Regions from separate parts of the Homo sapiens genome. Here region 2 is linked to region 1. Evidence: fine-mapped expression QTL. A gene starts in region 1. The other region holds a variant in brackets. All regions are shown on one strand. Distances are from middle to middle.

Region 1 (5,367 bases):
GGAGTGAATGGCTTGCTTAGGTCACGCAATTCTAGATTGCAGAGTGAGGATTTGACTCAGACCTGTTGACCTCAGAGCCTGATGTCCAGCCAACAAGTTCTCAGAAACTCGGGGTTTCTGAGAAATAGGACAGTCAGCCTGGGGACCCCTGAGAGCCCAGGCCGAGGGGGTGGGTTTCCTGGGGTAGAGGTTTTGAGAGGCAAAGGCAGTTGTCATCAACCCAGGCTGCACTGAAGGGGGCTGTTCCAGAGCCAGGGTGCATTGTTCAGCTGCCCAGTGGGCCTCTGGGTTTCTTTCAGTTCCCTTTGGTGACACGGCTTCCCTCCTCCCCCCTGCTCCCCACCCCAGCCACCCCACTCTACACTCGCTCACACAGCGTAGCTTCTACTCGAGTCAGGGGAGGGTGCCTCCTACCACACCCTCAGTCTGTGATATTCCAGCCAGGGGAAATGGGGGAAGGGGCCATCTCACTGTGGGGAGTGGGGGGCCCGGACAGACCTCCCTGTCCCCACCGCCTCCTGGCCCATCAAGGGGAAATGGGAGTGCTCACACAAGGGCCGGGTGTGGCTTCACTTCCCCTCTACTTGCCCTTCCACCCCCAGGATGGCACTGGGAGGCCAAGGGATCCCAGATCCTGGAAACACTGGAGTGCTGCTCTCTGTCCTTCCTTTCTCCTGGGCCATGTCTCTGGCCCCAGATGATTCTTGGCTCAGGTTCTTTCAGTTGAGGGAAGTCAGGATCTGAGCCAAGCTGAGCCCCTGCATAGCCTCTATCCCGGGAGCCCCATATCAATGCTGCCGGCTTGGTAACATCATCCCCCTTTTAGAGACGAGGAAATGAGATTTGAGGTCCTACTTAAGGCCACTTGGCTGGAATACAGCAAAGCCAGGTGCAAGCCCCTTCTCTGCACGCAGCCCGTGCTGCTTCTTGAGGTTCAGAGGCTCTAAGGAAGGGGCCTCACCTGAGCAAGATGGACAGTGGGAAGGGGGCAGAGGGCAGAATTCTAGGGTCTCACGGTCCCTCAGAATGGGTGAGGAGTATTTGATAACAAAAGAAGGCTCTTCTTAGCTATTGCTCCAGATACGACCAGCATAGAATATTTTTCTATTAAGCATAACTGACCTCCAGTGAAAAAGGTTCCCATTTTGTGGGGAGCCACTTTTGAAATAGCAATTTCATTTTATTATTATTATTTTGAGATAAGATCTCACTTCTACGCCCAGGCTGGAGTGCGGTGGTGTGCCTCCTGGGTTCAAGCAATTCTCCCACCTCAGCCTCCCAAGTAGGTGGAACTATAGGTGTGTGTCACCACGCCAGGCTAATTTTTGTATTTTTTGTAGAGACAAGGTTTTGCCATATTGCCCAGGCTGGTCTCGAACTCTTGGACTCAAGTGATCTGCCTGCCTTAGCCTCTCAAAGTGTTGGGATTACAAATGTGAGCCACCGTGCCTGGCCTAGCAATTTCATTTTTAAAGAAAGAAATATAAAACGATCTACCCATTCACATTTTCCCCATCCATACTTTAAATTTTAAAAATATGAAATAATGAAATACTCAGCAGATACAAATAATAAAATACTTATATATAATGATATTTCGACTTCATATTAGGGCTTCAAAGGTCAGGAAAGAGGGAGAGATACAGAAGAGAAAAAAAAAAAACGTTAACACATGAGTGTCTTTTTTTAACTTGTTAAAGGTAAAGTTCAACCCAGGAGAAGGGAGGGGAGGGAAGGTCAAAGTTCTGATTCATCAACAAATACTACTTTATTTGTTAAAAATACAAGGCTCTGCTTGGCGCAGTGGCTCCCGCCTGTAATCCCAGCACTTTGGGAGGCCAAGGCGGGTGGATCGCCTGAGGTCAGGAGCTCGAGACCAGCCTGGCCAACATGGTGAAACCCCGTCTCTACTTGGGAGGCTGAGGCAGGAGAATCGCTTGAACTGGGGAGGCAGAGGTTGCAGTGAGCTGAGATCGCACTGCTGCACTCCAGCCCGGGTGACAGAGCAAGACTCCATATCAAAAAATAAAATAAAATAAAATGAACAATGAAAAGACAGGAGGGAGGTTCCTGAGTAAGCTGATTCGAGTGGAAATCAGACATCAAAATTGAAACCCGCTGAATTTTCCAAAAAGCCAGATGCTCATAGAACTGAAGCTTGAGACACTTACATCAGTACACCTGCTGCCTGTTGACCAATTCCTCTTCCTTGTCCCTCCTGTTTTCCTTCCCTGCTATATAAGCCCCTAACTTTAGTCAAGGGGAGGGATGGATTGGAGGTTTGTCTCCCCTCTCAACAGCTCACTGGCTGATGTCACCGGAATAAAGTCTTCCCTGGCAATACTCGCTGTCTCAGTGATAGGCTTTCTGTGCGGTGAGCAGCCAGACCTGGACCAAACCCCTGGCAATCCATAACAAAATCATAAGCAAAATCAACCAGGAAGCTATTTGCACCCTGGAACCCCACCTGGGAGGGGAAGTCAAGGCAGACTTTCCAGAGAAGGCGATGCTGAAAATTTCAGAAACAGAAATTTTGAAGAGCAAGAGTTACCAAGCGAAGAACATTCCATGAGAAGGAACAGGAGGTGTGTGAAGGTGGAGGTTCTGGGGTGAGGTTCTTTATGGAATCGAAAACGGTTCAGAACCACAGGTCGACGGTCAAGGTAGTAGTGAGAGGAGGTGGGACAGGCGACCACGCCGCTGCCCCTGGGATGACTGGAAGGCGACTTAGGGGAGCTGGGGCGAGACAGGTGCAGGGTTTGAGGATGAGAAAGGCACAGAGTGACTAGAGGATTCCCGCCTGCAAGCACATCTGGAAGGGGTGTCTGGATCCTGGGGGCAGCGACTGTGTTCTAGGGCGAGAGCCACCCTCGCCAGGGGTGTAGGCAGGCGAGAGGAGGGCCTGGAGCTGTGGGTCGGCCACACTGCGCCCTCATTTGTGTGCAGCCCCGGAGGACCAGAGTGGGGAAGCACCCCACCCTCTCCCAGGGCCCAACTGAGCACTGCAGCGGGAGGTACGGGGTTGTCAAATGACAGTTTTGCCATTCCAGATTGCCAAAAGAGCCAGTGGCCAGTCTAGGGCACCGCGCCGTCTGGCATCTCCCTGGAGGCCCTGGGCCTGGCCCGAGGCTCAGCCCGGATCTGCAGTTGCCAGGTCAGTGCGGGGCCCGGAGTGGATTCGCGGGGCGGGGCGGGGCACTGCCCGCGCCCGGAGCTCAGCAGCAGCTGCCCAGGGGCGGGGGCGGCAAGACGCGGAAGTGCCCGGCAGGTTGGCGGACCGGCGGGAGGCGCAGCCTGGGCAGAGCTCAGCTTGGTCCCGCCGCCCGGCCGGTGCTCCCTGGCGCAGCCACGCAGGCGCACCGCAGACAGGTGGGTCCCGGCCGCCGCGCTCTCCTCTCTGCGTCCGCGCCCGGCGCGCCCCGAGGGTGGCGGGAGCGGTGCCGGCTACTGCCCCCAAGTCTAGGCCTAGACTGGGCCCCGCGCCCCCCAGGCACCTGCGGGCGGCGGGATGAAGACTGGAGTAGGGCGGGGTCCGCGTCCAGCTGCGCCTGGAAAGCGAGCTCGGGTGGGTGCCTACAGCAGGGTGCGCCCGGCCGGCCTGGGACTTCCAAAGCGCCTCCCACGCCCCGATCGGTTTGGGGTGCTGGCGCCCGGGGAGCCCAGTGACCCAGGCGGCGGAGTGGGCAGCGCTGCGGGGGGCGCCGGCTCTGCTGCTCTCCCTCCCCCTCGCCATCGCCCAGAATGGGGGTTCCCGGGAGCCCCGCTGGAGGCTGGCTTGGACCACAGAGGAGCGAGGCCCGATCCTTACTTTCGATGCACTCGCCCTTGCTCTTACCGGGCCACCCTCACCCTTTCGGAAAAGAGGTTGAGGTTAAAGCGTTCATCCCCCGGGATCTTCAGGCCAATGGCAGGAACTGTGCAAGAGTTTGGGGGAAGATGGTGTCAGGTAGAGGCTGCGTCCCTGGGCTCGCGGCCGGGAATGGCAGACTCTCGTCCCCCGAGCAGCGGAAAAGGATGGGGCGCAATAGTTCCTGGGCTGGTTTCCTCAGGTCCTGTCCCAGAACTTAAGAAGGCAACAATGAAGAGGCTAAACGTGGAGGAAAAGTGAGGCTAGCATGGCCGGGATGCGTGGGGAGATGGTTGTCTCCGGACCCCGGGAGGGGCGGGAGCGGGTACCTGGGAGCAGAGGCTGGAGTGGGGGACTTTCCCAGCCTCGCGGCCACGCTGAACACAGCAGGGCGAGGACCGGGGTGCTGCTCCTCCAGCAGCAGGAGGAGAGGTCCAGAGGCCGACTCTGGAGGTGGGGGTGGCTCCGCGGGCTGGCCCAGGGGGTGTGCCCCAGCGGAGCACGCGGGAGGGGTGGGGGCGGAGGGGAGGGGGGAGCAGGGGCGGAGGACTGGGCTGGGCCTGGGCTCCTCGAGGGCCCAGAATGGGGATAAGTGACCAGAACCAGAGAGGGCTCGGCTGTATCGATGTAGGAAACTGTAGCCCCTCAGGAGGCCCTCTGGCAAGACCTCCCCTTCCTGCCCCCACCCCCAGTAGTTATGGGGCCTGGGGTGCTGGGGCTGAGGGGTTCCAAGAGTCAAGGGAAGCACTGGGAAATCACCCCTTTTTATCTAAAGGCCCTACTTTGGGGTTTTTCCCCTGTACCCTGGTCTTCCCCTACCCTGACCCTGGGAGGAAGCTGAAAGAAGCTTCTTTCTGGGCACCTTTTGCCCCAGAGCCTCAGCCTGTCTGGACCAGGTGGGCAGCAGGGCCCAGGGTGTGGGCAGCTGACCCGGAGGGGTGGGATTTGGGGGTCAGGGCCTGTACAGGGAACCCCTTGTCCTCTCCCTGAGCTGGGTGTGGGTTTGCAAGGAGACATGTGACCCAGACCAACCCTGGGAGCAGCAGGGCGCCTGCTGTCTGGCCACTCTTACTAGGACTGCTGTGGCACTTCCTCCCCTAGTGGGTCCCTGGTGCCCATGAATTGCAGCTCCTGGGTGGTGGTGGGGGCACTGTCTCCTGGGACTCCAGCATGGCCCTGGGGTGAGCTGTGGGCTTACCCCACCTCAGCAGGTCCTCTAGGGCTGCCCACTGGATGCTTCGCTGCCTCACACAATTGTAGGGACTTCCTCAGGCTGTTGGATTTCCCCACCTTCCGGGGCTCAGGTCCATTGACTTAGGTCTAGGGCTCCATACATTTCACCCAGAGACTCCGGAGCCTGGCAGGCAGACCTGTTCTGACACCGAACTTCCAAAGTCATGGGCCTTGATTGGGGTGGTCTGAATTAGACCTAGCCCTTTTCTGGGCAGAAGGGAGCTTCTAGGAGGATGGATGCTGTTCGGGTTAGAGCTCGTGTGGACCTAGCTGCAGGCAAAAGCCTT
Region 2 (5,367 bases), 680 kb before region 1:
TATTTAGAAGGTCAGTAAGTGCTAGTGGGATTCAGGCTCCCAGTGGGTGGGAGAGAAAGGACGTAAGGAAGCAAGTGGTAAAGGCCCTCACAGAGTATCAGCAGGCTGGTGTGAGGGAGAAATGCAGAGGATGGGTGAGTAGCATAATCGCTAATGATAGGGTAATGATAGAGCACATTTCACAACACCTTTAAGCCCTTTCACGTGCATCAGATAATTTGATCCTCATAAAAGCCTAGAGATAGATATATTACAGGGATGAAGGTGGAGTATTTTGTGGTTATGTGATATGTTTAAAATTATGCAGTGAGTAAATGACTGGGTTCAAACCAGACCTTAAAAGTCTGTTATCTTTCCCTCGAGCATGCAATGAAGTCTACATCATCCCTACCATGTCCATTTGATCACACCCTGGCCTCACAGCTCTGTGGTCTACAGGATACCTCATGGTGGTTTTATTGACCAGACAATAATCCTCTTTCTAAGGGGATGCATTTCATTAATACATATGTAGATCATGAATTGTCTTTGACTTTGAGGGGATGGTAGCCAGAGCAGAAAGCAAAGCTGATTTTCATCCCCGTCTGGTAATGTGGTTGGTAATGTGAAGATGGGTGTATTCTGAGATACCGGCTCCTTGCAGTGTGTGGTTCCTTCTGTTTTCAGGCCCAAGAAGCCCATCCTGGGAAGGAAAATGCATTGGGGAACCCTGTGCGGATTCTTGTGGCTTTGGCCCTATCTTTTCTATGTCCAAGCTGTGCCCATCCAAAAAGTCCAAGATGACACCAAAACCCTCATCAAGACAATTGTCACCAGGATCAATGACATTTCACACACGGTAAGGAGAGTATGCGGGGACAAAGTAGAACTGCAGCCAGCCCAGCACTGGCTCCTAGTGGCACTGGACCCAGATAGTCCAAGAAACATTTATTGAACGCCTCCTGAATGCCAGGCACCTACTGGAAGCTGAGAAGGATTTGAAAGCACAGGGCTCCACTCTTTCTGGTTGTTTCTTTTGGCCCCTCTGCCTGCTGAGATTCCAGGGGTTAGTGGTTCTAATTCTAAACCACTCCAAGAACATTTGATTTTGCTACATGTTTCCATTTAAAAATCATAGGATTTGGGCTGGGTGTGGTGGCTTGTACCTGTCATCCCAGCACTTTGGGAGGCCAAAGCAGGAGGATCATTCGAGCCCAAGAGTTCGAGACCAGCCTGGGCAGCATAGGGAGACCCCATCTCTACAAAAATAATAAAAAATGTTAGCTGGGCATGGTGGTGTGTACCTGTGGTCCCAGCTAGGGGAGGCTGAGATGGAAGGATCACCTGAGCCTGGGAGGTTGAGGCTGCAGTGGGCCCTGATCATGCCACCGTGCTCCAGCCTGGGTGACAGAGTGAGACCTTGTCTCAAAATAAATAAATAAATAAATAAAAGTCATAGGATTTGATCAGGCATGATGGGTCACATCTGTAAGCCCATTGCTTTAGGAGGCCAAGGTAGGAGGATCAGTTGAGGCCAGGAGTTCAAGACCAGCCTGGGCAACATGGCAAGACCTCTCTCTCTAATTTTTAAAAAAATAAAAATTAAAGATAAGAAAAAAATCATAGGATTCTCATGAGGCCTCACGTGCTTATTTTCAACCTACCAAGGGGAAACCCAGGCCTCAGCGATTAGCTGAGCCACATGCAGGCACAGCCACTGTCTCTTTCCTTCCTGTCCCCTCTGTCCCCACCTTCTGCGCTCGCCTTCCTCCCTGACTTCACTTCCTTGAATCTTAGTGCCTACGACCAGAGGGAGCTGTGAAGTTCCTTGTGTCCCATTGGCAGGAACAAGACCCCCAGAAGCATCTCCTCAGGGCCTCTATCCCATCTCTAGATGTGCTTGTCATTAGGGTTCTTGTAGTTCCAGCTGATCTCTGGCCCTGCCGCTCAAAGATACCCAAAAGAGCGAGTCTACCCTTTTTCACATTCAACCCTCTACTGATTTGCAAATAGCAGTCAGTGCCCACCCTGGTCTTTTCTCTGGGGTCCAGCAGGCCTAGACCTTCAGCCATTTTCCTGATGAGGTCTGTATTTGAAATTAGGAAGATTAAGTTTGAATCTTCACACTTCTGATGTCTGTGAGATCTTCAGCAAGTTCCTTACTGTCTTTAAGCCTTGTTTTCATCATCTGGATAATGGGGATATCACACACTATTCACAAGGTTGTTATGAGGCCTAAATTAGCTAAAGCAATTGAATCCTCCTTACCCCCTGCATGGAGCTCTCTGGAGACTTCCACGTCTCCTGGTCATTGTGGGTGTCTTATGGTAGTCTTGGGCAGTTAGGGAGAAGTTAGGTGTCTGGAAGCAAAGATGGCTCAGAACTAGATAGAGTCTTGGGCATTTTATAGATAAAAACTCTTGTCTCCTTTAAAAATAATAAAAAAAAATTAGCTGGGCATATTAGCCACTCAGCAAGACTGCACGTGATAGATCCCGAGTGCCCCACCTTGGGTGGTGTAATACACAATATCACGGGAGCCCCGGGTAGTAACCACGGAGGTGTCAGCCTCAGTGCTGTGGGCAGATGGATGGGGAGAGCCTCCCGGAACTGGAGTCACTGGAGCAGGGTTGGGGGGCCTCACTGAGGGTACGGCCTTGATCTCTAAGGAGGAGGGACTGCCTGGAAAAGCTGACTGGGAGGGAGGACTCGGCTGGGGGTAGAAGGGACTAGGGAAGGCTGGGGGTGGGGGTGCTTATGGAGGACCTCAGATGCCTGGGGAACAGACTCCACTAAATAAAACATATGAAACCATGGCTGGTTCTTCAGCAGAGGCCATGTAGAGAAAGGAATGACCTAGGAAAGTTGGCCTGGAAGTGGAGGGAAGGATGGTGTGGGAAAAGCAGGAATCTCGGAGACCAGCTTAGAGGCTTGGCAGTCACCTGGGTGCAGGATACAAGGGCCTGAGCCAAAGTGGTGAGGGAGGGTGGAAG[G/A]AGGCAGCCCAGAGAATGACCCTCCATGCCCACGGGGAAGGCAGAGGGCTCTGAGAGCGATTCCTCCCACATGCTGAGCACTTGTTCTCCCTCTTCCTCCTGCATAGCAGTCAGTCTCCTCCAAACAGAAAGTCACCGGTTTGGACTTCATTCCTGGGCTCCACCCCATCCTGACCTTATCCAAGATGGACCAGACACTGGCAGTCTACCAACAGATCCTCACCAGTATGCCTTCCAGAAACGTGATCCAAATATCCAACGACCTGGAGAACCTCCGGGATCTTCTTCACGTGCTGGCCTTCTCTAAGAGCTGCCACTTGCCCTGGGCCAGTGGCCTGGAGACCTTGGACAGCCTGGGGGGTGTCCTGGAAGCTTCAGGCTACTCCACAGAGGTGGTGGCCCTGAGCAGGCTGCAGGGGTCTCTGCAGGACATGCTGTGGCAGCTGGACCTCAGCCCTGGGTGCTGAGGCCTTGAAGGTCACTCTTCCTGCAAGGACTACGTTAAGGGAAGGAACTCTGGCTTCCAGGTATCTCCAGGATTGAAGAGCATTGCATGGACACCCCTTATCCAGGACTCTGTCAATTTCCCTGACTCCTCTAAGCCACTCTTCCAAAGGCATAAGACCCTAAGCCTCCTTTTGCTTGAAACCAAAGATATATACACAGGATCCTATTCTCACCAGGAAGGGGGTCCACCCAGCAAAGAGTGGGCTGCATCTGGGATTCCCACCAAGGTCTTCAGCCATCAACAAGAGTTGTCTTGTCCCCTCTTGACCCATCTCCCCCTCACTGAATGCCTCAATGTGACCAGGGGTGATTTCAGAGAGGGCAGAGGGGTAGGCAGAGCCTTTGGATGACCAGAACAAGGTTCCCTCTGAGAATTCCAAGGAGTTCCATGAAGACCACATCCACACACGCAGGAACTCCCAGCAACACAAGCTGGAAGCACATGTTTATTTATTCTGCATTTTATTCTGGATGGATTTGAAGCAAAGCACCAGCTTCTCCAGGCTCTTTGGGGTCAGCCAGGGCCAGGGGTCTCCCTGGAGTGCAGTTTCCAATCCCATAGATGGGTCTGGCTGAGCTGAACCCATTTTGAGTGACTCGAGGGTTGGGTTCATCTGAGCAAGAGCTGGCAAAGGTGGCTCTCCAGTTAGTTCTCTCGTAACTGGTTTCATTTCTACTGTGACTGATGTTACATCACAGTGTTTGCAATGGTGTTGCCCTGAGTGGATCTCCAAGGACCAGGTTATTTTAAAAAGATTTGTTTTGTCAAGTGTCATATGTAGGTGTCTGCACCCAGGGGTGGGGAATGTTTGGGCAGAAGGGAGAAGGATCTAGAATGTGTTTTCTGAATAACATTTGTGTGGTGGGTTCTTTGGAAGGAGTGAGATCATTTTCTTATCTTCTGCAATTGCTTAGGATGTTTTTCATGAAAATAGCTCTTTCAGGGGGGTTGTGAGGCCTGGCCAGGCACCCCCTGGAGAGAAGTTTCTGGCCCTGGCTGACCCCAAAGAGCCTGGAGAAGCTGATGCTTTGCTTCAAATCCATCCAGAATAAAACGCAAAGGGCTGAAAGCCATTTGTTGGGGCAGTGGTAAGCTCTGGCTTTCTCCGACTGCTAGGGAGTGGTCTTTCCTATCATGGAGTGACGGTCCCACACTGGTGACTGCGATCTTCAGAGCAGGGGTCCTTGGTGTGACCCTCTGAATGGTCCAGGGTTGATCACACTCTGGGTTTATTACATGGCAGTGTTCCTATTTGGGGCTTGCATGCCAAATTGTAGTTCTTGTCTGATTGGCTCACCCAAGCAAGGCCAAAATTACCAAAAATCTTGGGGGGTTTTTACTCCAGTGGTGAAGAAAACTCCTTTAGCAGGTGGTCCTGAGACCTGACAAGCACTGCTAGGCGAGTGCCAGGACTCCCCAGGCCAGGCCACCAGGATGGCCCTTCCCACTGGAGGTCACATTCAGGAAGATGAAAGAGGAGGTTTGGGGTCTGCCACCATCCTGCTGCTGTGTTTTTGCTATCACACAGTGGGTGGTGGATCTGTCCAAGGAAACTTGAATCAAAGCAGTTAACTTTAAGACTGAGCACCTGCTTCATGCTCAGCCCTGACTGGTGCTATAGGCTGGAGAAGCTCACCCAATAAACATTAAGATTGAGGCCTGCCCTCAGGGATCTTGCATTCCCAGTGGTCAAACCGCACTCACCCATGTGCCAAGGTGGGGTATTTACCACAGCAGCTGAACAGCCAAATGCATGGTGCAGTTGACAGCAGGTGGGAAATGGTATGAGCTGAGGGGGGCCGTGCCCAGGGGCCCACAGGGAACCCTGCTTGCACTTTGTAACATGTTTACTTTTCAGGGCATCTTAGCTTCTATTATAGCCACATC

Direction of the effects. Positions count from the first base shown, and alleles are read on the strand shown. Sizes are in standard deviations (SD) of each study's normalised expression.
For the expression in ovary of the gene that starts at base 3,247 in region 1, A is the high allele of the variant in region 2 and G is the other (moderate effect, 0.56 SD a copy in GTEx).

What was found. PIP is the estimated chance that this variant, and not a neighbour inherited with it, causes the effect.
Region 2: its variant is the best candidate, but not a certain one, in a credible set for the expression of IRF5 in ovary (GTEx, PIP 0.79).

What each region holds. Positions count from the first base shown.
Region 1 is chr7:128,934,681-128,940,047 of GRCh38, forward strand. IRF5 (interferon regulatory factor 5) reads left to right here and starts at 3,247. Exons shown (of 9, transcript NM_001098629.3): 1 at 3,247-3,369. RefSeq lists enhancers at 40-159, 1,575-1,869, 3,537-4,120, 4,154-4,223 and silencers at 290-379, 3,114-3,873.
Region 2 is chr7:128,251,325-128,256,691 of GRCh38, forward strand. It overlaps LEP (leptin), which reads left to right. Exons shown (of 3, transcript NM_000230.3): 2 at 667-838; 3 at 3,080-5,367. The coding sequence starts at 695. The coding sequence ends at 3,439. Among named protein-coding and RNA genes, the nearest start is that of LEP, 13 kb to the left of the region's middle. The variant G/A (reference allele first, on the strand shown) is at 2,973.